6 separate regions of the Homo sapiens genome follow, and regions 1, 2, 3, 4 and 6 are each linked to region 5. The links come from fine-mapping of genetic effects on gene expression. A gene starts in region 5. Each other region holds a variant in brackets. All regions are shown on one strand. Distances are from middle to middle.

Region 1 (5,075 bases), 150 kb after region 5:
TAGTAGAGTTTTAAAAAAATAATTTAGACAGAGCTGTGAAAGTGCAATAATTTTCTTGTATATGAGCTCTTTATGCAGAGATCTCGTTTGGTTCAGCAGGTTTTTCTGAGCATCTCCTATGGGCAGGAGACTACGATGACAGGTGCTGAAAAGGCTACAAAGATGAAGAAAATCTATTCCTGGTGCTCAAGGAGGTCACAATTTATCCAAATTTGTATGGCACTATATAATGCTTCTTATTCAGACAGGGCCTCTAGGACCAGTAACTCTACTGAGTTCATTTATTTATCCATTCAACAAAGCATCTTTAAAATGCCTGGCTAGGGGAGCAGAGCTAAAAGACATGTCCCTGCCTGCAAGGAGCTCATTACAGTAATTAACAGTTACTACGCTAAATGGAACTGGAAGGCTGGAGATCTTAACTCTACCTAGGGGATGAGGAAATTGTTCTCAGAAAGGGGAACACTTGAAGTGAGACTTGTAGGAGAAGGAGGCATTCATCTAACAGAAGGACAATGAGCTATTCCAGGAAAGGAGAGCATGAGCATGTTCAGGGAAAGGAAAGAGTTTGATATGATTGGACCAGGGATCGTATGGGAGTGGGTGATGGGATGTGAAGCTAGAAAGGATGGTCATGTAAGAAGGGACTTTGTACGTCTTGCTAAAATGTGAGGATGTGTATTTTGTAAGTCAGAGTCAAGGGCTTGATAAAGTTGATAGAAACCTAGGGCTAAGAGTCAAACAGATTTGGATTTAAATCCCAGCCCTTCTGCATACTTGCTTTGTGATCTTGGGAGATCATTCCAGAGATTCAAGAGCAGGCTCTCCATTCTTGAGGAAGCAAGAAAGGCAAAATTGGGCAGAAGGAGAGGCTGCACCTGTGAGTGCTCTGGGGCTGGCATGGCATTTGGAGTGATCTCATATCCAGGCAAGGAGACTTGGCCTTTGTTTTGGGGAGGGATTAAGTAATCTTGGAGTGAGGCAGCTCCCTTTGGTGGAGGGTAATTCCCAGAGAGGGATCAGCTCTGAGTTTCAACAGCTAGCAGCCGGTATTCCCAGTAGTTGGAGGAATGAGTTGCTGGCTCTTGAGGAATGGCCTGGAGAATGCACAGTAAATACACACACACACACACACACACACACACACACACACACACACACACACACACACACGTGCAGAGAGAGAGACAGAGAGACAGACAAAAACAGATATGTCTTCTTGCTTGCTACCAGGAGTTCTCTTCTTATCCAGATTTTCTGGTTCTCAAAGAATTTCATCCTTGGAAACTGCCTATTTACAGTGGATTCCTGGTTACTTTGGCATTTAGTAGGGGGAATGCTCTATGCTTCCTGATCAGCTTTCTCATTCCTAACCATTGCTGACCACCTGGAAGGGTAACAAGTCATTACAATTACAGGTGTGAAGTTCTGCCTTCCTCGAGCAAACACAGCAGACTACAGACCTTACCTTCCCATCTGTGTTATTGCTGGAAGAGGAAAGAACAAGAGAGGCAAAGGACACAGGGAGAAATCAGAGTTTACGGAGGAGTAAGATCAACCCCTAGGACACATTTGTCATCTGAAAGAATAGGAAGCCAGAATCTATATCTACCAAGTCCAAAGAATTCCAGGTCCCTTTAGATTAGAAAGTCTTTCCTGCCTTTTTTTTTTGTACCCATTTATGCCTGAGGTTGCAATTTTTTTAATTTTTACAATTAGAACTTGGCAATTACCTTGACCAGCAAGATACAAATTACTCCCACATGCTTAGCATTCCAATAGTGGAACACTAGGCATAAATGGGTTTTAATCACCGATCTTCCTCTTTTCTAGCTCTTCTTCCATTGTTATGGTTCTAGGTCAGAAGCCTATTTTCTATCAAAATGGAAAGAAATTATTAGTGTGAATCTGAAGCAGCCTTTAGAACTGCTGTGGAGTCATTAGTGAGCATAATGCTTGTTTTCCTTGGGGAGAAGATTTTGAGACTTCCGCATGTTTCAATAAT[G/A]TCCCCATGTCTGTATGGAGATCCAAATAAATGCTGTGTGCCTGATAGTTTTGGCCTCTTAAACAGCCATATCTTATACAGTTTAGTCAATGACAAAAAATCATTTACCCAAATTATTCTGTCTGATAAGGAGTTTGGAGCAGGTAATTTCAGGAATTTTTTTCTGTCTAAATGGATATAATAATCAAGAAGACACTTGTAGAAATAATTCCATGCAGAGCTATAGGGAACAGCTTCAAGACTTAAATCTTAATTACATCAGAACCAGTTATAGACATAGTTGCCTAAACTCAAAAGTTTTCAACAGGTTAAAAAAAAAAAAAAGTGAAGCATTTTAAAAATAACAATATTCAACTATTCAAATACTGATTATTTTAGATTTATGCCTTTAAAATTCTAAATGAAGCCTATTGGTCAAAATAATAGTGATTCAGCTTTTAGGTTCTGAAATCAGATATTCTGGGTATGAATCCTGGCTTTACCACTGTTGGGAGCTGTGTGGACTTGGGAATATTTGTAAATACGCCTCAGTTTCTGCAGCTATAAAGTGGATATAGTAATCTACTCCAGATAGTCGTTTAGAGGATTCATGAGTTATATATGGAAAACCACTTAGCCTAGTGTCTGGACTTAATAAGTCCTGGTAACTTTTATCTAATATCTTTATTATTATCTCTATTATAAGCACTTATTCTATATACCTACAATAATTATGTAATGTGAGATTATACCAAATATTATACCAAATGTGTCCTCATTCTAAGGAGAGTATCATAATGATGTGAAAAACCCTTCCAGAGAATCAGTTTTATTTACTACTTATTATGAAGTTCCAAACAATATTTGTAAGCAAACAGTGATAAGTGCCCTCACAACAGCATTGTTTGTGGCTAAATTAAGAGTTTTGTCCTCACCTTTGAACATTTAGTGGGAAATCAGGGAGTATCCAAGTGAATGCACAAGCTGGCCGAGACTCCATGCCTCTCAAATCCCCCACAGCCATTTCACATGGAGCGCCTTACCTTTGAGGCTGAATTGATTTCTTCATTCAACAAAAGAGTTATTTAATTCCAGACCTTCTACTAGATGTAGACAATGTAAACACAGATAGGAGAGTACTCTGCTTTTAACCTCTTAAGTTCTGCTTAGCTATTTTAAGAGAAGGTCAGAATTTGGAGGCTCCTGCTACACAAGGGCTTGTTTCATTCTCAACCCTCACTTGTTTCCCAAAGAACCAGGGCTGATGTGCCTCTTGCCCTGTTCTCCAGCTCTGCCTTCTGCAGTCATGAGCTTTTGCTTCCTTCTTTCCATTACTCATGCTGAAACAGAGTACTCTGCATCTGGTTTGGTTCTGCAGCCAGAAAATGTGCAGTTCATATGCTACGCATAAAAATGTAATTAATGTCATCTGTCACAGTTGCAGGACAGGCTATCCAGCCAGCTTGCAATAATCACTTTATTTAAGCACCTAATCACAAGGTGTTATTTACCAATTTTAAGAACGTTAATAGAAGTATGTAGTTTGGAGGTATACCATCAAATGGTGGCATTTGAATATGTTAGGTTATCTCTATGGGTTTTAAATTACCTTGAAGTCTGTCATTTCCCCAAAGATTGTTTTAAAATCATTAATATTTTTTATCCTTCCTTGGTTTACATAAATACATGTACAATATAATTCATCTTGTTTCTTCACCAATAATGATATCTATAAGCTGCCACTTACTGAGTTTTAGCTATGTGCCAAGCACTGTACTCTACATTTTCATAAATTAGCTCACATATCCTCACAGCTGCCCAGAGAACAGGTATTATATCCACACTTCAGGGATAAGGAAACAAAATGCTCAGGAGTATAAATTGCAGCATCAGGCTGACTAGCATGTATTCTTGTCTTTGCCCGTATGTCTTAGATAGTTCATAGCTCCTATGTACTCTGTTGGTATTTTTTGGTGGTAGAGATGTCACCCAATGCATAGGGTCAGAAACTTCTGAGAAATAGGACACTATGGTTCTTGTCCTAGTCATTCTTATGAAAAGACTGAAGAATGATATTCTGGGAAGAGGCACAACATTTGTCAATCATCCAAGTTATAGGGAGGGATTCAAAGCAGCAGAAACTGGCCCAAAGCCAGTGAGAATAACCCCTCTTTGGCATAAGTCCCATAGGTTGTCAGAGTCAGACTCACAGAAATTCAGTTGACTCACTTTAGGTATTGCTGATTGTGTGGCTTAATCTGAAAGAAAGGAAAGGTTACTAGTAAGATTCATACTTATTTTTTATTTTGATCAAAGACAGCCATATTCTATTTAAATACCCCAACATGAAAAAAAAAGCAAAGATATTTTATGGAGGAGAAAAGCTGTAGTTTCAAATACACCATTTAAAATAGGTTAATATTCAAACATGTTTTAGTAGAAGTTAATAAAAGATACCACTTGACTACAGATCTCTAAGGCTCTGACCTTGTTTTTTTTTTTAAAAAAAGTACCATAAGTTAAAAGCATCTGAAAACTACCAATCTCTATATGTGAAAAAAGAACCTATTTCTCTTTGAATATAAAAATAGATATAGATTGTAGAAATTTAGAAAACGCTATAAATATAAAAAGAAATAATAATTACCCATATTAACACTAACTACTTTTAAATTTTAGGCTCTATCTTTTCACTATTTATATGTGTATACATATACTTAAATATATATGTGTATATTTTACAGAATTGAGATTTCATTCTATATGGCTTGGAAAGGTGCCATTTTCATATAGAATATTATTAGCATTTCTCACATCTGGAAATAGGCTACCTCATGACTACATAGTACTTTACTATGTGCATGGCCATGTTAGTTTTCTGTTGTTAGACATTTAAATCTATGATTTTTTTTCTTATGCTACATTTTTTGAAGTAGAATTATCAAGTCAGAGGGTGGCCTTTGAATTTTGTTAGAATTTCATGTCTTGAATTAAATTCTTACTGTTTTCTTTTCTGGAGTAATGATGGTCATGGTTGTCATGTACAAACAGGTCATATATTCGCTGAAAAATTAATTGGCTTTTATTAGCA
Region 2 (5,075 bases), 140 kb after region 5:
CAGTGACTCACGCCTGTAATCCCAACATTTTGGGAGGCCAAGGCGGGTGGATTACCTGGTGGTGCATGCCTGTAGTCTCAGCTACTCAGGAGGCTGAGGCAGGAGAATCACTTGAACCCGGGACGCAGAGGTTACAGTGAACCGAGATTGCGCCACTGCACTCCAGCCTGGGCAACAGAGCGAGACCTCTATCTCAAAAATAAATAAATAAATACATTTAAAATATATATATATATATATATATATATATATATATATATATATATATATATATATATATTTATATATATTTCGTGACTTATATCTTGCACATACCAGCATACCTCATTAATTTTAATGTAACCATCCATTGGCTTCTCTTCTCTCCTTAGAAATTCGAGCTCAACTGGTAGAACAACAAAAATGCCTGGAGCAGCAAACGGAGATGCGAGTTCAGCTTCTCCAGGATCTGCAAGATTTCTTCCGAAAAAAAGCTGAAATTGAGACGGAATATTCCCGGAATCTAGAGAAGTTAGCAGAAAGGTTCATGGCAAAAACAAGAAGCACTAAGGATCATCAACAATACAAGTAAGAGATTTGAATCTAATTCACCTTTCCAAGGGTGATATCCATACTGCCTTTGCCACCTTTGTGGATTTTTTATTTTTCTATTTTTGTCTGAGTAGTGGTTGTAGAGCATATTCTCATAAATAAAAGCAGCCCTCTACATTTGTAACTTATGGGCATCAGTTTATCATTTTAAACTAGTGTAATCTGTTGACACTTTTGTCTTTCCAATACATATATATTTATGGATAGCTTTATATGCCAGAAGAGAAGGTATATGTTTGTAAAATTCTTGATTATAGAAACCCGGGAGTTGATATCTGCTATAGGTAGGACAGATTTAAAATAGGTTTTTGTTCAAGCAAAGACCTCAAATTTTCTCTAGTGAATTTATATGAAAGTAAGCAGTAAGAATTGCTTGAATTTTGTGCCCCCCTTCCTGCCCATCATGTTTATGGTCATTGTAATTGACACTGATTTAAAACAAAAGTTTTAAGGAAAATGCTATGAATGAGCATAAAGTAAGTTTAATTATGATTTATTTGCTTTAAAAAACACACATAAGATGTTCTGCTAATGAAAGTTAATGTATGATTTAAATCCTGGGGACAGGGCCAGGTGGGGTGGCTCATACCTGTAATCCCAGCACTTTGGGAGGCCAAGGCAGGTGGATCACCTGAGGTCAGGAGTTCAAGACCAGCCTGACCAATATGGTGAAACCCCGTCTCTACTAAAAATACAAAAATTAGCCAGGTGTGGTGGCATGCACCTGTAATGCCAGCCACTCGGGAGGCTGAGGCAGGAGAATAGCTTGAACCTGGGCGGCGGAGGTTGCAGTGAGCTGAGATTGCAACACTGCACTCCAGGCTGGGCAATAGAGTGAGAGTCCATCTCAAAAAAAAAAAAAAAAGGCCTCAGGACAGAGAAAGACAAGTAAGCAGACAACTCCAGTGAAATATTCAAGTGCTCCAACAGGGGAAGGCGGGGGAGACCCTGGACAGACCCAACTGATATCTGTTCTGCATTGGAGGTGGGGAAGGGAAGGTCCTGAAAGAAGTGGCATCTAAGCAAAGACCTGAAGGACTAGTTGGTCAATAAAGGAGAGAAGAGGAGGATATTCCAGGCAAGGGAAACATCATGGGCAAGGGGCCGGCAGGGAATGTACCACGCCTGGCTAAGGGATGTACAGCAGGTTTGCAGAACAGAAGTAGTCCAGTGGGAGTGAGTAGGGAGGCGATGAGCTGCATGGCTGCAGGTGTGAATCAGAGGTCATGGGGACCTGGGGATCTTCCTGGCCAGTTGGGACCTTTTCCTGAGGGCATGAGAAGGAACACTGCAGGTAGAGAGAAGTTGACCTGTTTTGGAGATAGTAAAAAGACAGTGCAGGCTTTCATTTCTGTAAATACAGCAGGCCAGATCATCTGAAAAACATGTCTATCTGAAAACTCTCAGAAATGCTGGTTAACATATAATGGACATCCTTTTACATATAAATTTCTAGGGGCCAAAAAAAGAAGAGGGAACTGAAAACCTAAGTGGCA[A/G]TTGTATCCACCCTTTAATTTCACTTGGGGCAGAGAAGATAAGGTCTGTGCCAAGTAAAGACTTGGAACTGAGAGCTTCCTCCCCACCAACCCCATTGCATTGCATCCCAGAACCAGAAGAGCTACTATCTCAGTGAAATGGTAAAACAGAAACCCCTCTACCCACCTTCACAGGGCACAACAAGAAGACCTGGCTGCTCAGCCTGGGCTCCTGTTTGGAAGGGGCTGTGGAGAAGCATGCCTTTCTGTCACCATTGGCTTTGCAGTTCCGTTCATTTCACACCTCTCCATGACCTTGGACCCTGCATAAAAAAATGGGATGGGAACTATCCCTGGGCTACTTGTGCAGAAGCAAACACAAAACTATTCTGGATAAGAAATACCTCTCTGTTCTCTTCCTTTCTCTTCTCTCCTCTTCTCTCCTCTCTGTCTCTTCTCTTTTCTCTCTTCTCTTTTTTCTTCCTCTCCCTTTCACTCTCTCTCTCCTCTCTTCTCTTTTTTCTTCCTCTCCCTTTCTCTCTTCTCTCTCTTTCTCTCTCTCCCCCCCGACACACACAATCTCTCAACTTTAACCTTTACTGTTGGTCCAGCATAAAAATAAATCTTAATGATGATCCCCAGGGTGAACAAATGTTATATGTATTTAACAGAGAGCGGGGCTGGGAAGCAGAGGCTGGAGCCAGTACTGTATTCACATAGTAACTTAACTGTTGCTTTTAAAAAGCAGTTGTAATTAAGAAGACAGCCCATTCATCTATTCAGTAATTTTTTTTTTTTTTGAGATGGAGTTTTGCTCTGTCGCCCAGGCTGGAGTGCAGTGGTGCAATCTCGGCTCACTGCAACCTCCTCCTCCCATGTTCAAGCAATTCTTCTGCCTCAGTCTCCCGAGTAGCAGGATTACAGGTGCCCACCACCACGCCTGGCTAATTTTTGTATTTTTACTAGAGACAGGGTTTTGCCATGCTGGCTAGGCTGGTCTTGAACTCCTGACCTCAAGTGATCCGCCTGCCTCAGCCTCCCAAAGTACAGGGATGACAGGTGTGAGCCACTGTGCACAGCCCATTCAGTAAATATTTTTTAGTATCTTCTGTGTTTTGCATTTGGTAATTGGTGGCTGTGAAGGGAAAATATGGATGGGTCCATGTACCTTATCTGGCCCCATGGTGGATGGACACGTTTTTGTTTCTCTTGGTTTATTTGGTAGTTTTCTTTAAAAGGTAAGCAGTTTGAAATTTTCTTTAATTTGAGTAAGTTTATTATTGAATATGGGACTGAAGATAAGATGAATATGTCTCTGAAAAGGATAAAACAGGATTGGGAAAAAAGTCAGCCAGACTTGGGTTTGAATATTGGCTCCACTTTGTGACTTTGGTTAAGTTACTTAACCTCTCTGAGCCTTGGTGTCCTAACTTGTAAAATGAGGTTTTATGACCCTTAAGTGAGAAATGTGATAAACTCTTTGATACGATTGATAACCAGCCCAGGATATGCACTTGATATTCCTTCTCCTTTTAACCAAACACATGTTATGTCTTTAGCATGATATCATTACCAATCATTTAAGCTATATTCTGGAGTCTGGTTCTTACTCAGTTTTGGGACACTTATTGTGTAGAACATTCTTTGGCCTAAAGATGCCACTGCATAGTGGAAAGACCAAGGCTTGGTTTAGCTTCCCTGGACTAAAAAAAGACTCTCTCAGACACTAGCTTTGGTCTTTATCAAATCAGTATGCCTTGCTAAGCTTCCATTCTTTCACTGATAGAAAAGATACAAAGGGTCGGGTGCGGTGGCTCACACCTGTAATCCCAGCACTTTGGGAGGCTGAGATGGGTGGATAACCTGAGGTCAGGAGTTCAAGACCAGCCTGACCAACATAGTGAAACCTGTCTCTACTAAAAATACAAAAATTAGCCGGGCATGGTGGCAGGCACCTGTAATCCCAGCTACTTGGGAGGCTGAGCCAGGAGAATCGCTTGAACCCCGGAGGAAAAGGTTGCAGTGAGTCAAGATCACACCATTGCAGCCCAGCCTAGGCAACAAGAGCAAAACTCCATCTAAAAAAATAAAAATAAATAAAAAGAAGATACAAAGAATCTCTGCCTCAAATGGTAGTAATAAGGATTAAGTAGAGTTGATGTCTGTAAAATCTTTATACCAGCCCGTGATAAAACAGCTGACTTTATATAGCACTTACCATGTATACAAGGCATTATTATAAGCATTTTAAAATATATGTTAACTCCAGTGATTCTCATGAACAATCTTATAAGCACTGTTATTTTACCCATTCTACAAAGTAACTGAGGCACAGAGCAGTTAAGATCATTTGCCCAAGATCTCATAGCTAGTAAGGGGTAGTCCTGCATGTGAACCTAGACAGTGCAGCTCCAGAGGCCATGAGCTTGACATGGATATTACTTTTCACAGTAAGTGCTCATTAAATGATAGCTATTATTATTTTCAATATTACTACTACTGCTATTATTACTAAGGCAATAATAATTATTTATGCAATGAGTGAAATAACACTTATTTAATGTTTACTGTGGGGCAAGGCCCTGAGGATATGTTGAAGCATGAAATGTTCTGAAAGAATTTGTGGGTTACTTCAGCAAAGAAGATCTACATGAAAGTTAATAGAAATAAGGTAACATTTACCTTGTTATATAGGGCTGGGTAGATAGGAACTCTCAATAGAAAAGCTCCAATTACCTGTTATAGAACCACTGCTCTTTGCCTGATGGTGTTAAGAAAAAAGGGAGATCTCAGGGTAGAGGGTATAATTCTTCAGTGTGCCAATGGGAAGAATGGGAGGCTGCCCTCATGGGTGCCAAGTGCTAGGAGCCTAAATCAGGCCTTCTTTCCCTATGCCCATTCCTGCTTCCATTGTCTACTTTCATTTTCTTCTAGAGAGGGCATTGACTTAATGCAGTATTAAATCCTGAATCTGAGAGACGTAATGGCAGAGGCCCAACTTCATCATTT
Region 3 (5,075 bases), 260 kb after region 5:
TATTTTCAGAGTGATGACCATTTGAACTTTTTGCCATTTGCTGAAGTAACTTGTGTTTTATGGTAAATTTTTCACATGCATTTACATGGAGCTATCTAACCCGCCTGCTGGGAAGTTGGGACGCTAACATGAGAATCTTGCATTGCTGGGAAAAAAACATATATTAGCCCAGGGAGCTTTGAGCATGTGATCAAGGTTGGATGAATGCCACTTTTACCTAATTACATGAGACCTTGAATTGTGGAAAACAAAGCCCAGCTTACAAGAAATCCAAGTGAAATACTGATTTTCCCCACTGACAACTTTTCTGAGGGGAAGAAAAGACCCATCTTTCCCTCCAGCATGAAATTGTGAAATTTGCCACACTCAGAGCCAGCTAGGAACACACATTCATCAGGGTGTCAGCAGCAACCATAAATTTTGCCCACTAACTGGACTCAGGACAGTAAATGAGTCATTTGTACCAGAGCGAAGCTCCTGTAGGATACACATTGCGCGCCTGTTGAGCAGCCAGCCAGGTAGAATTGGGAGTCCTGCTCGCAGCCATCACGGTTAGAGGCCTTCGAGACGAACAGATTTGCTACTACTTCAGGAATGCCAGCAGTTCTGTTTTGCTTTGATTTGTGTTGACTGTAGTTAAAGAGAATGTACATCTGCCTCATATAACTTTATCTAGTTTTTTTAGTGTCACTTATGTCCTTGTTGCTTTTCCCCTGAAGTCTTTCATTTGCATCCCACAGGCCCCCTCATTCTTTTATTGTGGTAAAAATATATATATATATAAAAAATATAAAATTTACCATGTTAACGATTTTTAAGTGTACAGTTCGGTGGCATTAAGTACATTCACAATTATCACCACTATCCATTTCTAGAACTTTTTCATCTTCTCAAACAGAAACTCGGTACTCATCAAACAATAACTCCCCATCCTCCTGCACCTCCGCCCCAGGCCCTGGCTTTATCTCTTCTGCTTTCTGTCTCTATGCATTTGCCTATTCCAGGTACCTAACATAAGTGGAATCATATAATACTTGTTCTTTTGGTGACTGGCTTCAGTTAGCATAGTGTCCTCAAGCCTCATGCATGTTGCAGCATGTGTCAGAAATGTTTTTCTTTTTAAGGCTGAATAATACTGCATTGTGTGTGCATACCACATTTTGTTTATCCACTCATCTGTCGATGAACATTTAGGTTGTCTCTACCTTTTGGTTATTATGAATAATGCTACTCTGAAACTGCTGTACAAATATTTGTTCCCTCAATTCTTATTAAATAAAATTTTAAAACTGCCTTTAAGAGGTAGAGGGACTAAGTTTAGAACCAAGAGATAGAAACAAGAAGATCTTGAATTAAGATTAAACTTCTTGAGGCCGGGGATGGTGGCTCATACCTGTAATCCCAGCACTTCGGGAGGCTGAGGCAGGCAGATCACTTGAGGCCAGGAGTTTGAGACCAACCTGGACAACGTGGCAAAATCCCCTCTCTACTAAAAATACAAAAATTAGTCAGGCATGGTGGTGGGTGCTCCTAATCCCAGCTACCTGGGAGCCTGAGGTATCAGAATCACTTGAACCTGGGAGGCAGAGGTTGCAGTTAGCTGACATCACCCCACTGCACTCCAGCCTGGATGACAGAGTAAGACTCTGTCTCAAAAACAACAACAACAACAAAATCTCTTGGAATTAATGCCTATGTCCTGTAGTTACAGAGAATGTAGCCTCCAGAGTGACTTGCTGTCTATGGGATTTGACAAATATTAAAGATGAATAATATAGTAAGAGTGGTTCTTTTTACATCCTTTCCTTTCCTTTTGTTTTTAACTCTAGGACTTTAAAACTAGCGTTAAGCTACAAAACTCCTGTCCCTGATAGTTGACCTTAACTTTATGATTATTAATTGTTTTAGAGACAATGTATTCCTCTGTTGCCCAGACTAGAATGTGGTGGTGTGATCATAGCTCACTGGAGCTTC[G/A]AACTCCTGGGCTCAAGCAATTCTCTTACCTTAGCCTCGACCTTAACTTTAAAATGAGGATTTGCTGGGAGAATGAGGAAACTTCACTTTTGAAACACCCAAGATTCTCAATAAACAGCGGGAGAAGTTTTATTGTTGTCTTAAGAATAAATCATAATATGTATAATTTCGCTTTTGAAGAGTTTTTTCTTTTTCATTTTTAGAGATAGACTTTCTAGATACAGGTATGCTAAATCATCTTTGTCTTCTTTAAAGCAGCAACAACATTACACTTTTTATAAAATCAGCTATTTTAGGTAATAAGCATTCAACCAGTTAATTTCTGATATGAGATAATAATGCAGCTGTGTTGAAATAGTATTTAAAGATACAGAATTCCCATTAAATTCTCAATGACTTGCAAATTACTTCATGTTTAGGCATTTCATCTTCCCTCTCTGTACAATGTGGTTTTGCACATATCACATGAAGTTGTCATGGAGATAAACAGCTTACTCTGGGACATGTCTTGATCCTACCAGGACCAAACTGGGTGGAAATGTTGATAACTTAATTATTGAGTTATTGTGGCCTGAGAGAATTTATACACCTGTTGAATAACTTCTTTTTTAAGCATCTTATTCCCTCTTTTCAGGGAAAAATAAATCAAGACCATTGCCTGGGAAGTATGTTAACAAAGTGCTTGTATGCAATAGACGTAACCCTAATCTGCCTTGTTCATAGCGTTATATTTTCTCCATTTTGAAATATTTTACAAATAAAAAAGGCAAAATGTAGTATATTCAATTCAGTATTACTAAGATCACACTATTATAAATTATAGATTTATATTGAAAGAATAAAAATGAAAGAATGAGAATGTTAATTGCATGATAATGTTTTACTTACATTCTGGTTCAAGAGTTTCTGAAATTGCATTTGCTAAAAGATGACAGAGCTACGGTTCCAACTTTGGCATACTTAAAGGTGGGAATGGAAGTGGTTTTTTCTCAGGAATCCTGATAAATTATTGCTTGTTTTGTCAGCTCATTCTTGGTTAATCAAGAATATTCCTAATAGATTTTTCGTACCTTTTCAGCTATGCAAAAGGGAAAATAGAATGCCCAGTTTGATAATAAGTGGAAAACAGCTGGGGTCAGCACTCAAGATTCCAGGGAAATAAGCTTAGCAAGAGTAATTAAGACAGTGGTTCTCAACCCTGGCTGCATAAAAGAATCTCAGGCATCAGCATTTTTAATCTCCCCAAGTGAATCCAAGTCAAGGTTGAGAACCACTGATACAAGAGGAATCGGAAAGGGAAACTGAGTTAGGAGAGTATTTTGATAGTCTAAGTTAGAAATAATCAAGACTTCAGTTAGAAAATTAGCAGTGAGATATCTAGAAGTAGAAACTACAGGACTTCTTTCCCATTCAAGGGAGAAAAATGAAGCAAGGATATCATCTTAGAAGTGATGTTTGTAACCTTGCAACTGGATGAGGTTGCCATTGAGGAGAACCAGGTAGATATCTTTGAGAGTTATCCACATTTATAGGTGGAAGAAGGTTTAAAAAACAACAATAATAATGAGAATGAGTTGACTATGGTGTCAGAGGCTATGGACTGAGAATTTTCAAGTATTTTCATGAATATCTCAAGCAATTAAGAACAATATGGTGATATAAAAGTATAGGAAGCTTCAGAACTGTTTTCAAACATAATACTTTTTTGGAAATATTTTCTCAAATGTATGCTTATTGGGTATCTTCAAAGTTGTACTTTGTAAAGGTACAGCTTTACAAAGTGGTAGTCTTGGGATCCAAGAAAGGCAACCAGACTTATGAAACAGAAAACAGACTTGTGAAACAGACTTATGAAACAGGACACATAGGTTGCAGTCCCAGGTCTGCCTCTTCTAGCCCGCTGACCTTGGGTATGCCACTTGCCCAGTTCTCATTTTCCTAATCTGATAAATGGGGATGACAGTGTGTGCCCTGCCTACTGCAAAGTTTATTATTCCTTTTAACTTAGATAGCAAGTGTGAAAATGTGTTTTTAAATATATAGAGAATTATACAAATAATGTGTTGTAGTAGTAACCTTTTTGCTGATGTTCACAAGCACTTTAGTATTCAGACACTTTAGACAGTTTGTATTCCTGGTAAAGAGGTAGCATAACACTAGTCTCAGGTAATCCTGTCTTGGGGGAGCTCACCATCCCACAGGGAAGACGAGATAAGGAAATAAATAGCTATAAACATCAGGACATGCATCATATGAAGGCAGGAATTGTATTGCTAATGTATTCTTAGTGCTTGAAACCTGGTGGGCTCTCCTAATATTGATGGTATAATGTAATACAAGGTGAAAAGTCATATAAGTAAAATGCAGTGGTAATTTTGAGAAAGGAGAGATTCTAAACCTGGCACATTGCCTGGATCATAATTATAGACAAATATATGATGAATTAATGCATAACAGTTCGGGGAGAGGTGCCATGCCCCAGAAAGCTACTTTGGTTAGCATGCAGCAAGAAGTTGAAATCATATCAGATGCAAAATTTAGAATTAGCAGCAAAGGAAAAAATGGTTTTTAAATCTAGAAGACTCTAAATTACTCAAAGCCAAGTCCATGAAAATCGGAGAAAACGGTAAGGGTCAGAGGAGATGCCCTCTGGAATGGTGGTATACCCAAGCCGATCATTTATTCGCTGTTTTGGTTACAATTGGATCTCACACAAGAGCAGGGTGTTGCTTATATTCAGATGTGTACCGGTAATACATGTACTGCAGTGTTCTGTTTTAAATGTGGCAAGTGAAAGGACTCTGACCATGTCATCTTCTGTCTGTAGGAATAGATAATCTCTATGAGAGGGCGCTTCACATCCGCAAACTCCTCCTGACTTTGCCCAGGTCGGTCCTTATAGTGATGAGGTACCTCTTTGCCTTCCTCAATCAGTAAGTACCTGAATGCTCTGACAAAAGGCCCATCTGAATTCTGTCTTTGTTCTTCGATCCTGTAAAATGTACGTTGGGTTCCATTTATCAGCAGAGTCAAAGAGAAAAATGATTGAATATACATTGAAAAATGTACTGAAGGTACATTTTTCCTCAGCAGATCAACAT
Region 4 (5,075 bases), 280 kb after region 5:
AGAGAGTAGCTTTTGTTTCTGAAAGACAGGCTATCACAGAACAAAACCATTCTCTGCAAGGACAGTGGGTAACAGATCTAGGAGGAAAAATGTCAGCAACAGCAAGGTTCCAAAGAGAAAGTGTGATCACATTTTATATAACATTACAAGAAATGGAAATATAAGATTTGACAGCACCAGGCAGTCAGGGAATCAGCTGTGTTGAATTGTCTTCCCTTTTGCACAAAATTATATTACCCATGCAGGAAAACTAAGTGATCATGTTGCACTCTCACTATTATTGTTATTGATAGCAGCAGTAGCAGCATTCTATGAAGTCTCTGCAGGACCTTGAAGTACTGTGAGGCTTTCTATATGAAAGAGGCACAGTGTACCATGCCCTGAGATTGATTTGCTCTGCAATGACCAGACTAAGATGTGTGTAAATAGCTTATTGATTGACACTTGACTGTGAAATGGCTCTCACAGGAGTAGAAAGAGTAAAAATAATGAAATTGCTGAGAATTACTAGTTGATGTACTAGGATTGCCAATAAAATGTTCTGCTGATTTATCTGGTCATCCTGTCATAACCTGACCACATTTGAATAAATAAGCAGAGTCTGATAATCCTGTTGCTTGTTTCAAAAAAATAATAAGGCCAGGCCCAGTGGCTTACACGTGTAATCTCAGCACTTTGGGAGGCCGAGGTGGACGGATCACAAGGTCAAGAGATCGAGACCATCCTGGCCAACATGGTGAAACCCCATTGCTACTAAAAATACAAAAATTATTGGGGCATGGTGGCACGTGCCTGCAGTCCCGGCTACTCGAGAGGCTGAGGCATGAGAATCGCTTGAACCCGGGAGGCAGAGGTTGTGGTGAGCCAAGATCACGCCACTGCACTCCAGCCTGGGAACAGAACAAGAGTCTGTCTCAAAATAAAATAAAATAATAATAAGAGGAGATGATCATAGAGGTCGTGATTGTGCAATTATAATAAAATATGTATATATCTGTTGAATAGTTTTAACTATGTTGAATGGCCAGCATTGACAGTGTGTGATTGAATGTCATTAAAGAATATTAATGGTTCTGTCTTTATTTCTGTAACATAAGTATATGTAGACTGTATACTGTATCATGTGTTGGTATCTTTTAATTTTTGTAAGTAAAGCCAAATACAAATATGTGGGTGTGTTCACACAGGAATTTGCAAATTACATGTCCTGAAGTTCTTGTAAATAAATTAGCATGCCACGTCTGTAGTCCTAGCTACTTAGGAAGTTAAGGTGGGAGGATCACTTGAGCCCAGGAGTTTGGGGTTACAGTGAGCAATGATTGTGCTACTATATCCGGCATGGGTGACAAAATGAGACCCTGTCTCAAAAAAACAAAAACTAGCATGTCTTCATTCTTCCATGGGGTGTTTATTTCTTTTTCATAGGAATAACTGGGGTACATATTTGGGTATCTGTCATCTCAAGTCAACCAGGATTTATTCTTTAAGTTTTGAACTATAATGAGATCATTCCCTTTAAATATAAAGTTATAGTCCCTCCTCTATGAAGCAGACACATAGATGTTTAATAAAGCTGCTATTTATATTGTTTTGGTAAAATATAATTTGGGGGAATACCAGAGTGTTAACATATAATCTAAAAGTTTTATTCAATTGCTAAAGGATTTATTTATTTATTTATTTATTTATTTATTTATTTATTTATTTTTATAGAACTGAGGCCTCACTGTGTTGTTCAGACTGGTCTCCAACTCCTGGGCCACACAGTGATCCTCCTGCCTTGGCCTCCCAAAGTGCTGGGATTACAGGCGAGAGCCACTGCACCCAGCCACTAAAAGATTTAAACTGTTGTTTTAAACATTATCCTTACAACTACTTTGTTGGGAAGCCTACTGTGCAGATTATAGTGTTGTGGTTCTGCAATACAAAATATTATTCGCCTCAAACATTATCCACTAGAGACCAGGCACCTATAATCCCAGCACTTTGGGAGGCCATGGCTGGAGGATTGCTATGTTGCCCAGCAGTTTGAGACCAGCCTTGGCAATGTAGCAAGACCCTGTCACTGTTTAAAAGAAAAAAAAAATTATCCAAAGCAAAAAGAAGGGGCATTTTTCTTTGTCTTTATTTAAAATGTTTGGCTGAAATTTGGCCAGGGCCTTTATATAATAAGGTGAAGCCTAAGCTTTTTAATATGTTTGTTGGTTTTTATGCTTTCGCCTTCTATGTCCCAGAGAATTTTGAATATATCAAATGAGAAAGAAGCCCAGCTGTCTGTCCAAGAATTTCTCATGCAATGATTATAAGTACAATGGCTATTGCAGTAAACTTTTGGAAGAATAAACT[CTT/C]TTAAATGGGAAGGTTTGCTACCAAATAGAAGACAACTTCCCGGGGAATTTTTGAGATAGGCAGGTTTTAATCTCTTCTGTGTACACGTATTCTAGAGTATTTGGAAATGAATGCATGCCCAGTTTTTAGCAAATGATGTATTGTTCATTGCATAGGCATATTCCTGTAAGTATATGCCCCTTGCCTTGGCCCCTTTTTGTCCTGTTTATTATTGAAGAGAAGTTTACTCACCTTTGTTGATTACAAGGCTAAGGATGAGGTATTTGTGGGAGAGGGGAGCAAAGATCATAAGGCCTCAAATTGAGGAGCTTCTTGCAGTAAGATAAATCACAAAGAAACACCTCTTTGGTTGCTGAGTCTGTCCTCCTGTTTGCCTTCAATATTTGTGGTCAGAATTAGATCAGAGCTGAATTCCAATTGTAAGTCTAGCAGTTGATATCTTTTTTTTTCTAACTTATTATTTTGAAATCATTGTAGATTCACAAGCTGTTGTAAAAAACAATACAGAGAGATCTCGTATACCTTCTGCCAGTTTCTGTCAATGGTGATATCTTACAAAACTGTAATATCATTTCACAAGCAGGAAATTGACAATGATACAAACCATTCACTATATAAATGTTTCAGCAGCCTTACATGCACTCCTTTGTGTGTGTGTTTACTTAGATCTGTACAGTTTTATCACATGTATAGCTTTGTGTGACCACAACCCATACTCAAGATAACAAACAGTTCCATTACAAGGAACCCTTGTGCTACCTTTTGTAGCCACGGCCGCTTCCCTCCATCACCTTCCCATCCCCAACCTCTGGCAACCACTAATATATTCTCTATCTCTATAATTATGTCATTTGAAGAATGCTATATAAATGGAATTGTATGGTATGCAATCTTTTGAGATTGGCTTTTTTCACTCACCATCATTCCCTTGAATATCTTTTGATCTCAAGAAAAATAAAAATTTTGCATCTGTTTTTTTAATTTGGACAGAGGGCAATTTAAGGCATATTTGTTTTATGGTTAAGATCCAAAATTTGTTACTGATACTAGAGAAAAAAATCGGGATTACCGTCAGTGTTAGTTTGAAGATTTGATAGTGCCAGAGAGCACATGGGGAAATTAAATGTATTCACATACTATTTATTGTGATTTTACTTGATTTTTTCTTAAGTAAGCCGGTAAAGCATAAACTTCCTAATGTTCTGAGATGGTGATTTTTTTCCATGTTATAAATGGTATTAACATGTTACAAGGAAATTCCCTCAGTGTCATCTATCAATGCCAAAATCATATTGAAGCAATTGTGGAGGATATTACAACTCAAGGAGAGATTTTATATATCCTATTGCAAAGTTTAAAGTATTTTTTTTTGACTGTCATTATATCTCTAGTAAGAGGCTGTGGAAATGAAAATCCAGTGTTCAGTTTTTCTTTGTCTGAAAAACTGATGACAGCAAGATAATGTTTTTCTGTATCTTTTTAAACAGCCTCTATTTTCTCCTGCCTTGATAATATGTTGATGACTCTGTTCAGTCTAGATATTAAAATGGTCTTGATCATTTGAAGCCTCATAGAGCCCTCACAGATAGGATACCATGCCTTCCTAACAACCCTGTTTCTCGCTGTTTTCTGGTGTGTTCGTTGTAGAATGTGAGCCAATAGAAGCAATAGCCAAGTTTGACTATGTTGGGCGGTCTGCCAGAGAACTATCCTTCAAGAAGGGTGCCTCCCTGCTGCTGTATCACCGTGCATCTGAGGACTGGTGGGAAGGCAGGCACAACGGGATTGACGGGCTGGTGCCTCACCAGTATATAGTGGTGCAGGATATGTGAGTAGTCTCAACTTTGATTGCCTGAGTGCTCCCAATAGAGGACTCCAGCCATTGTTCTTAAACTGACCTTGGTCTTGTGAGAAAGGAGCAGAAGGGATTACAGAGATAAAACTTCAGAGCTAGGCACAGTTCCTTACCTTGCCAGTGGCTCTTTGCTAACAGTAAGTCAGGGCCCAGGAGGTTTGGAACAAGAACTCTGGGGAGACATCTTCTGAAGCTTTCAGATTGTTAGAAAAATAACCTATGCATAGAATGGTGTTAAGAGCTGAAGTGACATTGGTAATTCCAAAAACAGCAGTGCTCTTCTCTTGATGTCTGTTTACCGTTTCAATTCCAGATTCCCCAGAGGAAGGACACTGACCTAAAGTCAGAGGGAATCATTGCTATGCTGTTTTTTGTTTTGTTTTGTTTTTTGCTGAGGAGAAAGCTCTAATTTCAAAAGTATTTAAAGACATGGGAAGATAGTCATAACATATTAAGTGAAAGAAACAGGTTGCAAAATAATGTGTAGTCCAAAAGTAGCTTTTTAAGGAAAAGACAAATATAGCACACAAAAGGTATACAGTGACTGAATCATTCAGCCTAATTTCAGAAATGTTAAAATGTGTATCTCGGAAGCCAAGAAATGTGTGTATATGCAGACATGTAGTCATATATATCTGAAATATCTACATATAAATATATTCATATATAAAATAAATTTGCATAACTATCTGTACAGTCATGTACCACACAATGACATTTTGAGCATCAATGGACCACATATATGATGGTGGTCCCATAGGATTTAATATCCTATTTTTACTGTACCTTTTCTATGTTTAGATATGTTTAGATACGCAAATACTTGTTTACACCATTGTGTTACAACTGCCTGTAGCATTCAGTACAGTAA
Region 5 (5,075 bases):
TATTTGCAATTCCTCTAGAGTATAACACTCTTCCTTTTCCCTGGAATGCATCCCTTTTCCTCCCTAAAGTTGCCAGCTACTTACTATTCATCCTTTAAATCCAGCTCAAAACCACTCCTCTGCGAACTCTTACACCCAATCCTCTTATGCAGTCTGTTTTTCCATCCCCAGTGCTCCCAAGACTGGGAGTATTTCTATCTCTTACAGCATTATTGTACTGCTTGTAATTATTTATTTATACAGTAATAGACTGCATGATCCTTTCCGGCAGTCTTAATCTTTGAATCCCTAGTTCCTAGCGTGGTGTTTGGCACAGAGTTAAGAACTGGAGAGCCGATCACTGGATACATGAAAGAATGATCAAAGTCTAAAAGTCCCTACTTTCTTTAGATCTTGTGGGGAAAACACTTGAGGGGATACACCTTTGGACACATCATTTTGATAAATCAGGCCCATAATATTTGAGAATTGATTTGAAAGGAGTCAGTAAATATCTCAAGTGGTGTGAGTCAAAAAGGCTAACAGAACCAGGTGTGGTGGCTGATGCTTGTAATCCCAGTGCTTTGGGAGGCTGAGGTCGGAGGATTTTCTTTTTTTTTTTTTTTTTTTTTTTTGAGAAGGAGTCTCCCTCTGTCGCCCAGGCTGGAGTGCAGTGGTGCAATCTTGGCTCACTGCAACCTCCACCTCCTGGGTTCAAGCGATTCTCCTGCCTCCGCCTCCTGAGTAGCTGGGATTATAGGCACATGCCACCATGCCCGGCTAAGTTTTATATTTTTAGTAGAGATGGGGTTTCACCATGTTGGCCAGGCTGGTCTCGGACTCTTGACCTTGTGATCTGCCCACCTCGGCCTCCCAAAGTGCTGGGATTACTGGTGTAAACCACCGTGCCCAGCCAGAATCTTTTGAGGCCAGGAGTTTGAGACCAGCCTGGGCCATAGAGCAAGGCTTCATCTCTACAAAAAAGTAAAAATAATAAAAAAAAATTTAAAAGGCTGGCAAGGATGGATTTAAAGTACTTAACACAACACCTGAACCATGCAAAGATGGCAAGGTAAATTCTTCGTTATATTGTTCAAAAAGAGACTAGAGTTTGAGACCAGCCTGGACAACATAGGGAGACCCCCGTCTGTACTAAAATGAAAACAAACAAACAAATAAAATAAAAAGAGACTAGACACGATAGATCTTGTAAAAGGTATCTATTAAAAACGTGGCCGGGCGCCGTGGCTCACACCTGTAATCCTACCACTTTGGGAGGCCGAGGTGAGCGGATCACTTGAGGTCAGGAGTTCAAGACCAGCCTGACCAACATGGCAAAACCCTGTTTCTACTAAAGATACAAAAATTACCCAGGCACGGTGGCGGGCGCCTGTAGTCACACCTACTCTGGAGGCTGAGCCAGGAGAATCACTTGAACCCGGGAGGCGGAGGTTGCAGTGAGCGGAGCTCGTGCCCCTGCACTCCAGCCTGGGCGAGAGTGAGACCCCGTCTCAAAAAAAACCCCCAAAAAACAAAATCAAAAAACAAAAACAAAAACAACCGTAAAAGTACTAAGTGCAATGTAGTGTCCTGTGTTGGATCTTGGAACAGAAAAAATGACACTAGTCGAAAAAATTGGTAAAATTGGAATAAAATCTGGAGTTTAGTAAATAAATAAGCTAACAACGCCGTTAAGTGTGACGTGTTTCCATACCATCGCTTTCCTACCATCCTAGCTTCCCTATCTACTGTAGGAATAGAGGATATGGTGTTCAAGGTGGGTGTTTTTCTCCGCCTCGATTGAAGAGCTTCGCGCTCTTTGGATTAACAGCCAGGTCATTCACAATTCAGTGTTCAGTTTTTCTATTGGGGTCCAGCGTCTCGGAGTAACATCCCTTTGTGTCATGGATACATCCAACTCTGGACTTCCCCATTAGATTCTGGCAAAAGCCCCACCAGAGCCCCCGCCAGAGCCAGAAGGCGGTCCCTCAGGTCAGGAAGGGGTTTTCCTGCCGCCGGAGCCGCGACCTCGGCTAGCGGTGGAGCGGGGCTTCGGCGGAGGGAGGTGCGGGGCCTCGGCGGAGGGAGGTGCCGGGGGCGCCGCCCACGGCCTCCTGGGCTCGGCGCGCGGGGCCGGGCTGCGGTTGGCCACAAGAGGCATCCATCTTCCCGGACCAGCCAGGCGTTTCCTAGCGGAGCAGGGGCGGGAGCTTGGACGGAGAAGGGCACAGGCCGGAGCGCGGTCCGCTCCCGCGAGCCTGGCCCCGCCTGGCGGAGCCCCGAGGAGCCACCGCCCGCAGATCGCTAGCCGGGCGCCCGCGAGGCGCGAGCCGTGTGCGCACCCTCAACTTTGCTGCCGCCGGGGGCGCGGCTCCCGCGTGCGTGTGCGAGTGTGCCTGTCACTAGCGGCCTCCTGGGGGCAGCAGCGGAAAGGGGGACGCAGAGAAAGGCAGCCTCGGCGCACCGCGGCCAGGGAGGCAGAGGCCCCTCGCGGCGCCGGCTCTGGAGACCTAAACTCCGCCGGGGCTGTGCCCAGGGCGCGTCTGAGCGTCGCCGCCTTCACCCTCTCAGCAGCAGCGGGGACTCGCGTCAGGACTGCGATTCCTTTCGCCTGCCGAGCTGTAGCGGCAGTGTCTGCGGGCAGAGGAGCGGCGGCCGTGGCAGCAGCATCCCCAGCCCGGGCGGGACCCTTGAGCGCCGGAGCCGACAGCTGGAGGCAGGAAGGGAGGGTTGTGGCGCCCGAGCTGGGCGCGTTCCCAGCGCCTGCCCTCCGCCGCTGGCCCTGTCCCGGGCGCCCGGTGCGGGTCTCGAACAATGGTGCGGAGCGCCGGCGCGAGCCCCGCGCCCGCCCAGCGGCCGTAGAGGAAGTGGCCGGGCTCCCGGCGAGGTGGGCAGGGAGACGTCCCCCGCCACTCGCTGGCTGGAGTTTGCCTGCGCGTCCGGCCTCTCCCCCGGGGATCCCCTGGGATTACCGACGGAGCTCAATTTCGAGAGTATGGTGCCAGCGCCCGGGCTAATCTAGTCCTCTCTACTCGCTCTTTTTCCCCTCCTCCTCCTACTTCTCCTCTCCCTCCTCCCTTCCCTCGGGTCGGCGCTGCCTCTGGATTGCCTGCGTGTGGGAGTACAACTCTGCCTCTCCAAGGAGAACGGGTTGTGACCACTGAACAAAACTTGCCCATTGAAAGCAAACCCGGAACAGCTGGATAATGTCCACCCCGAGCCGATTCAAGAAGGACAAAGAGATCATAGCCGAGTATGAAAGTCAAGTCAAAGGTAAGGATGGGAGCGGCTGCCTTGCTCCTTTTGTGTGCCTTCTTGTCATTGTGCTCGTGGAGTTGCGTATCTAACTTGGTGTCTGCGTGGGAGGAAGGTGGTGAGGGGACAGCTCGAGCCCTGTCTGAGCCACCTGGGCTTCCTACAAGCCAGTTAGTTCCCAGTTGCAATCCCAGTCCCGTCAAACCCACGGGGAGCTGGAAACTGGGTGACTTCCCCCGCCAGCTGCCAGCCCGCATCTCTAATGGGGAGAGAACTGGCTTTAACTTAACCACCTTCAGCTGGGCAACTTATGTGGGAAGCAGGCAGCAGTGGAGGATCCTGTCCAGCTATTATTATCACCATCATTATTCTTTTTAAATGGTAGGATTGTCACTACGTAATTTTTTTACGGAATGATTTTTGTAAAGTCTGTGAACCCCAAGCGGTCTACAGCCTCATTGAGTGCAGGCTATTTCAGATATTTACACCACTCACCTATTTACACCGCTCACAATTTATTAGGGCGAGACCCCTTTTATTAAATAGCTCCCTAAAAGCCTGGCAGTTAAACGAAGCAGTGACTAGTGGAATCTGACTCTTCCTTTATAATGGGCCAGAATTCATTGCCATCTTTCACACTCACATGGGAATATTGCTTTATCATTTTCTGGAAGCCACTTGCATGTAAAATGAAGGTTTGAATATTTGAGTAGTAGTTTCAGTCCATTTACATTGTCAACTAATGAAGGAAACCTAATTAAGGCTGATTATTTTTACTTTCTATGCCTTGTGATTAAAAATATATATATTTTCTCTCCAATACAAGTATTTTGTTTTGTTACTGAAGTGTTTCGTAAACATATGTGTTACTTGAATTTTTTCCTCCTCTTTCCTGAGGTCTCAGGAGTAGCTTTCCTGATTGAGACAATGGATGGAATGTTGGGACCGCCACTGTTCTTTGACACATTCAATGCAAAGTTCATAAAGATTGCTATGTATACACCTGTGTTTATCTATGCACAGTCTTATGAAAGGGCTACGGAGAGAGGCATTACTGTACTTCCCTTGAGCAAGGGAGGAGCAGCCTGAGTGTTCTTTTGTGTGGTCAAGTTGTAAAAATGCCTGGAGTCCTGTGAGAGGACCTGGTGGAGAAATCCTGTATCATCCAGTGTGAATACAGACCAACTCATTGTGGACACTGCAGACACAATATGCAAGATAACTTAGGTTATCTTTAGGAGGACCCCTATAATGGAGTTATCTATAGGCTGACCCCTATAATGTGTTCAGGAGACACAGATTTTTGTCTGCTTGGAATTGTGATAATTTATACTTACAGGAACTTGTTTCATTGCTATGGAAGTTGTGTTAGCAGATAAGTAATTATTTTCTTAGAGCCAGGTAAACTTTCTAATGAGACTAACCTTTCTTTTTTCAGTGAGTCCAACATAGCCTAAAACCTTTCATTCCAGGGCAGTACTCTTGTTCACAACCACCATTTCTCTGTGCAGTTTTTCCACATGGCTCTTTGTGGCAGGTCTTCAAGGGGTGGCGGTCTGGTTTTTCTGCCGCCTAGAGCACTAATTGGCAAATGCACTTCCAAATGTTGATTTCTTTATGTTTGCTGTAAGGTCACTTGCCAGTGATCAAGTCCTTATTTGAAAATCAGCGAAATGGGATGTGTTGCAATGTGTCTATCAAATTCAAACGGAAGAAAAATCATGAACATGGTGAAAATCACATTTGGAGCTAAGTCTGTCCCACAGAGAATGACCTTCTCCCTATTTCCTTCAACACTTCTTCCTTCCACACACCCACGAGTCCCTAGGCTGCTTTAGGAG
Region 6 (5,075 bases), 190 kb after region 5:
AGTGCCTGAGGTATAAAGTTAGATTTGATTGTCTCCCTAATTTTGATCCTGTAGAGAGACCTCATGTTGTCATGTTGTCATCTCTAATAGATGAGGGTCAGAAAGGCTGAGGTTACAGAGTTATTTTGCAGCAAAGCCAGGACCAAAATCCAGGTTTGTTGTTCATAGACCTTTCCATTAAAAATGCTACTCTGTAAATTTACTAGGGGCAAAATCTCAATATGCTATGGTGTTGCAGGACTTTTCCTTAGTTCAACTAAAGACAGGGTTCTTTGTCCCATGGCCATGAAAATTTAGGCTCACAGACAATTTGAATGGTGAGTAAGACAGGGTTTTATTTGGTGAAAAGGAAGAAAAGGGGGAAACAGAACTCTCCCTGGGACAGTGTCCCATGCTCCAGTGCTTCTCCCACTGGAAGACTGAATCTCAGGTTCTACACAGGAAGAGGAGGGACCAGCTCCTTCCCACTGCAAAGGGCCTAAACTTGCCGAGGTTCCATCCCATGGGCAGGCCAGTTGGCGTTTCTCCAGTGACCCCCTCCCACCTGGCTGTGTCAATGGTAGTATGAGATACTTTCATTTTTTTACAAATAGTTAAAAACTCTGCCTCATCAGTCAGATCTCTGGGCTGAGAGAGATCCTGAGTTTGCCCCACCATTGGATTGCTTTGTGGGTCAGAAGAGAACTGGTTTATCCAGCAGCCAGGCATGGAGCAGGCCTGGGCCAGCACAGAGTGACCCAAGGCAGTGCCTTGACCAGAGCCACGGACCTAGCTCTGCACATAAGTCCTGCCCCCGACAGCTGACAACAAGCCCCCACAGTCACTTTTTAAATTCTGGATGACGTGATTTCCTATTACAAACAAGTGAGATGAGCTTTCAAAGCAAAAAAAAAAAAAAAATTCTGCCTCATGTTTCTTCACTTATTATTGATCTTGAGCACATTTCAAACATTTCTTTAGCCTGTCTGTGAATTTTCTGCTGCATTATTTGACCCATCTAAATGTATGAGTATCAGTGCTTTTACTTTTTAGCAATGTACATATTTTCATATAATATTAATGTTATTTTTGCATCAAACATTTTATCTACATTACCTTTTTTAGTCATTTTTTATCATTATACAAAGTATGTGTAGAGGGAAACATCACACTGTACCCCATAAATGTGTACAATTTTTTTGTGTCAATTACAAATAAAAATATTTTTTAAATCCCCAAAAAAGAAAAAAAATGCCGCTCTGTATGATAACTCCTGAAACAAAAGTATTAACACTACAGTGAACAGAAGCTGATTATTTCTGTGATGTTTCTTAGCTTTATTTCCTCCCTTTGCATATGTGTTCTCCATTTTTCCCTTTGTTTTACTTAGTCCCTGCATCTCGTTTGCCCTGTCATTTGGTTACTTGGCAGTCCCTAGCCAGCAGGGTGCAGAGTCCCAGACAGTGTCTTTTGTTCAAAGCATTTGTTTGGATTATAAATATAATTTGATGATAAATTCAAACTGTTATGCTGATTTCATTTCAGTGGAGTCACAACGTATCTCAAATTTCCTTTGATAAACTTGCCCTAAAGACCGTATCTCATGCTATTTAATTGTTCACCTTGGTCTATTTGCTCATTCTAAAGAGTTTTGTGGCCAGGTGTGGTGGCTCATGCCTGTAATCCCAGCACTTTGGGAGGCTGTGGTGGGGGCGGATCACCTGAGGTCAGGAGTTAAGACCAGCCTGGTCAACATGGTGAAACCCCATCTCTACTAAAAACACAAAAATTAGCCCAGCATGGTGGCGAATGCCTGTTATCCCAGCTACTCTGGGGGCTGAGGCAGGAGAATCGTTTGAACCCGGGAGGCGGAGGTTGCAGTGAGCCGAGCTCATGACATTACACTTCAGCTTGGGTTACAGAGCGAGACTCCATCTAAATGAAATAAATAAATAAATAAGACTGGGTGCGATGGCTCACGCCTATAATCCCAACACTTTGGGAGGCCAAGGCAGGTGGATCATGAGGTCAGGAGTTCAAGACCAGCCTGACCAAGATGGTGAAACCCCATCTCTACTAAAAATACAAGAATTAGCCACTCACAGTGGCAGGCGCCTGTAATCCCAGCTACTCAGGAGGCTGAGGCAGGAGAATTGCTTGAACCCGGTGTGAGGGGGTAGTGGAGGTTGCAATGAGCCGAGATCACACCACTACACTCCAGCCTGGTGACAGAGTGAGACTCTGTCTCAATAAATAAATAAATAAAGAGCTTTGCTAAAATTCTTAACATATTCACTGATATGGTTTGGCTCCGTGTCCCCAACCAAATCTCATGTTGAATTGTAATACCCAGTGTTGGAGGTGGGACCTGGTGGGAGGTGATTGGATCATGGGGGTGGTTTCTGATGGTTTAGCACCATCCTGCTCGTGCTGTCTCATGATAGAGTTCTCACAAGATCTGGCTGTTTAAAAGTGTGTAGCACCTCCCCCTTTGCCCTCTTCCTCCTTCTCTGGACACATAAGACATGCCTGCTTCCCCTTCACCTTCCACCATGATTGTAAGTTTCCTGAAGCCTCCCCAGCCATGCTTCCTATACAGCCTGCAGAACTGTGAGTCAATTAATCCTTTCTCTTTATAAATTACCCAGTCTCAGGTGGTTCTCTATAGCAGTGCAAAAGCAGAGTAGTATATAAATGGAAATATTGCTGATTTTCTTCCTTTTACCTCTATTAGAAACAACAATCCCTCCAATCATGGAAAAATTATGACCTGTTATTGAAATGAATTATTTAATGGCATTCTTTTCAAATATCAATAGCTGACATTTACTGTGCACTTATATGTCAGCCTCTTCTGTGCTCTTCGTATGTGTTAACACATTTTATCCCCCCCACCACCTTAGGCAGTGAGTAATATTGTAATTCTGATTTTACAGTAAGGAAATTGAGGCACAGAAAGGTTAGGTTACTTGCCAAAGACCTCACAGCAAGTAAGGGCAGAGGCAGGATTTGAACCCAGGCAGTCTGTCTCATGAGTCGGAGCTCTTAACCATGAGTATGCTACTACTCAAACTGAATTGTCCTATAAATGCTGCTTTGCAAGTGTAATTGAAGTTTTGTAAACTTTGCTTTCACTGATTTATGAAGAGCCACATTGGCCCAGGGAGAGAAGGTGGGTTTGTGAAAGTTTATCATTGTAACAG[T/G]CCTGCTGGCCACTCATGACCTCAGGGATCAGCAACTCTTTCAGCCCTGATGCTGGGAACAAGAAAAAAAAAAAAAAAAGAAAAGAAAAAAAACTTTCTGGTTTCACTTGCAGGCCTTAAGTGGGAGGTGGGGGATGGGATGGGAACTGAGAAACAGAGACATCCATTGTAGGTGTATGTTAAGGGCTGGCTTCTCATGCCTTTATATCCTTTATATAAATGAAATATATTATCCATTTTTTTCTCTCCCTAAATGGGCTTCCAGACTTAAATATAAGCTGATTACAAAGAAGCCTGGGAATTTTTCTCTACCTAATTCTCACTCAGCCTACCCTGAAGTCCAGCAACTGCCCCTCTCCCACCTCTGCATATATCCACTTCCTATTTGTAGTGCAGTAAGAGTAGGCTGGCCTTTGTGTCACCCCTACTGGGGAGAGATTATGTCTTTCATCTCTAGTCTCAAGGCCTAGCACAGTGTCTGGTATTCAGACACTCAGTAGCTGTTTGGTGGATGAATAAATAAAATCAGTATACATTGCACCCTGAAACCTGGGCTAATGTCTACCTGATTCTAGAGTAACTGTCACCATACATTGAAAAAGGCGCTAATTATAAGAGGTGTGTGTAGACAGGCCAAAAGCATTTCCAAAGTGTGAATTCAGGAGTGTTTTATAAATGTGTGTCTTTGCAGTCGCCTCCAAGGCCATCCTTACTGATATATTGTTTTAGTTTTTATGAGGTTTGTGCTAGCCCAGTTCTCAACATGAAATAGCAAAAAGGCATCTGTTGGTCTGCTTTTATTGTACCTCAGTTCTCTCTGCTGCTTTGCCTTTGGGAGACAGTGGCCTGCACCTATCTGCTTAGAGCCTGGATATGAAGGCCCAAAGCCTGCACTGTTACTTCTACATCATACCTTAGACACTGTCAAGAATCATAACTACCCACCGTGCTGTGTGCTTACATTCTGTCATTTCATCCCCATTTTACCTCGAAGGAACTGGAGCTCAGGGGCATTAGGAAACTTGCCCACTTAAGAATTGATGGCACTGGAACTCAAATCCAGGTCTTCCTGGTTCCAGAGTCTGTGTTCATCAGCGGGTTTGGCCAGGTATACTAAAGAGCAAGAAGACTGGAGATTGCAGATGTAAAGATCATGGCACACGTGTCCTGAGTGCTCTTTTTGAGGGAATTCCTGCCCACTACCACTGTCTCAAGCCGCCAGAGAGACAGCTTGCCCAAAGAGAGGCTGTGACCTGGAGGGAGGTACTGTGGCTGTGTTAGGTTCCTGGGGTTCAGCTGAAGGTGGCCCTGGTGGCTTTCCCCACGCACCTGAGAGTTTCCTGGGAAACAATGGGCGTGGGCTTCCAAGGCTGTGGTATTACCCCAGTGGTTTGGTTAGTCTGGCACTTGCAGAAATTCAGCTACAGTTAGAGTCCTCTTATGTATTGATTGTAGAAAATAGATCTTTATCTTAGGTAGTTGATAAGAAACCCAAAGAATGTAGTTTCTCAGAAGAGCTTTTAGTGATTAATGGATTTAGTGAAGCAGCAGGCTATATAGAGTTAGGAAATATTGTCACTAACATACTGTTTTTCATCTCCCTTCCCTGCCAAACCACCACATCATTTCTTTTCTGAGAGGCCATAAATTCCAACACTAACCATATTTCACAAATGACTTAGAACTATTTGTCATCCCATTAGTCCAATCCCAGGTATTTATTGCTGGTGCTATTTTGGAAGCCGAGGATAGAAAAGAACAATGCCAGATGCATTGTAGATGTTTAATAAATATTTGTTAAGTGAATAAATGGATGGACAAGCTTACTATAAAATGGGTTCTTATCCTTCATTTGATTCTCACCTATTTTACTCATACTGTATATGAGACAGT

Alleles and levels. Positions count from the first base shown, and alleles are read on the strand shown. Sizes are in standard deviations (SD) of each study's normalised expression. Not every link is listed here.
For the expression in monocytes after LPS of the gene that starts at base 3,069 in region 5, A is the high allele of the variant in region 3 and G is the other (moderate effect, 0.59 SD a copy in Fairfax 2014).

The links. PIP is the estimated chance that this variant, and not a neighbour inherited with it, causes the effect.
Region 1: its variant is the best candidate, but not a certain one, in a credible set for the expression of SRGAP1 in blood mononuclear cells (TOPMed, PIP 0.65).
Region 2: its variant is the best candidate, but not a certain one, in a credible set for the expression of SRGAP1 in monocytes (TOPMed, PIP 0.55).
Region 3: its variant is the best candidate, but not a certain one, in a credible set for the expression of SRGAP1 in monocytes after LPS (Fairfax 2014, PIP 0.57).
Region 4: its variant is the best candidate, but not a certain one, in a credible set for the expression of SRGAP1 in fibroblasts (GTEx, PIP 0.79).
Region 6: its variant is the best candidate, but not a certain one, in a credible set for the expression of SRGAP1 in coronary artery (GTEx, PIP 0.51).

The regions. Positions count from the first base shown.
Region 1 is chr12:63,991,544-63,996,618 of GRCh38, forward strand. The region is part of intron 3 of SRGAP1 (SLIT-ROBO Rho GTPase activating protein 1); the gene reads left to right. It overlaps LOC105369801 (a long non-coding RNA gene), which reads right to left. Exons shown (of 5, transcript XR_945023.3): 4 at 4,987-5,047; 5 at 4,162-4,242. Among named protein-coding and RNA genes, the nearest start is that of SRGAP1, 150 kb to the left of the region's middle. The variant G/A (reference allele first, on the strand shown) is at 2,006.
Region 2 is chr12:63,983,576-63,988,650 of GRCh38, forward strand. It overlaps SRGAP1 (SLIT-ROBO Rho GTPase activating protein 1), which reads left to right. Exons shown (of 22, transcript NM_020762.4): 2 at 372-567. Among named protein-coding and RNA genes, the nearest start is that of SRGAP1, 140 kb to the left of the region's middle. The variant A/G (reference allele first, on the strand shown) is at 2,088.
Region 3 is chr12:64,104,131-64,109,205 of GRCh38, forward strand. SRGAP1 (SLIT-ROBO Rho GTPase activating protein 1) reads left to right here. Exons shown (of 22, transcript NM_020762.4): 16 at 4,802-4,907. The region is part of intron 1 of LOC105369798 (a long non-coding RNA gene); the gene reads right to left. Among named protein-coding and RNA genes, the nearest start is that of KICS2, 120 kb to the right of the region's middle. The variant G/A (reference allele first, on the strand shown) is at 1,975.
Region 4 is chr12:64,121,981-64,127,055 of GRCh38, forward strand. It overlaps SRGAP1 (SLIT-ROBO Rho GTPase activating protein 1), which reads left to right. Exons shown (of 22, transcript NM_020762.4): 19 at 3,997-4,177. The region is part of intron 1 of LOC105369798 (a long non-coding RNA gene); the gene reads right to left. Among named protein-coding and RNA genes, the nearest start is that of KICS2, 98 kb to the right of the region's middle. The variant CTT/C (reference allele first, on the strand shown) is at 2,347.
Region 5 is chr12:63,841,632-63,846,706 of GRCh38, forward strand. SRGAP1 (SLIT-ROBO Rho GTPase activating protein 1) reads left to right here and starts at 3,069. Exons shown (of 22, transcript NM_020762.4): 1 at 3,069-3,252. The coding sequence starts at 3,186. RefSeq lists silencers at 2,002-2,421, 2,482-2,541, 2,652-2,911 and enhancers at 2,074-2,575, 2,576-3,075.
Region 6 is chr12:64,031,801-64,036,875 of GRCh38, forward strand. All of the region lies in intron 4 of SRGAP1 (SLIT-ROBO Rho GTPase activating protein 1), which reads left to right. Among named protein-coding and RNA genes, the nearest start is that of KICS2, 190 kb to the right of the region's middle. The variant T/G (reference allele first, on the strand shown) is at 3,183.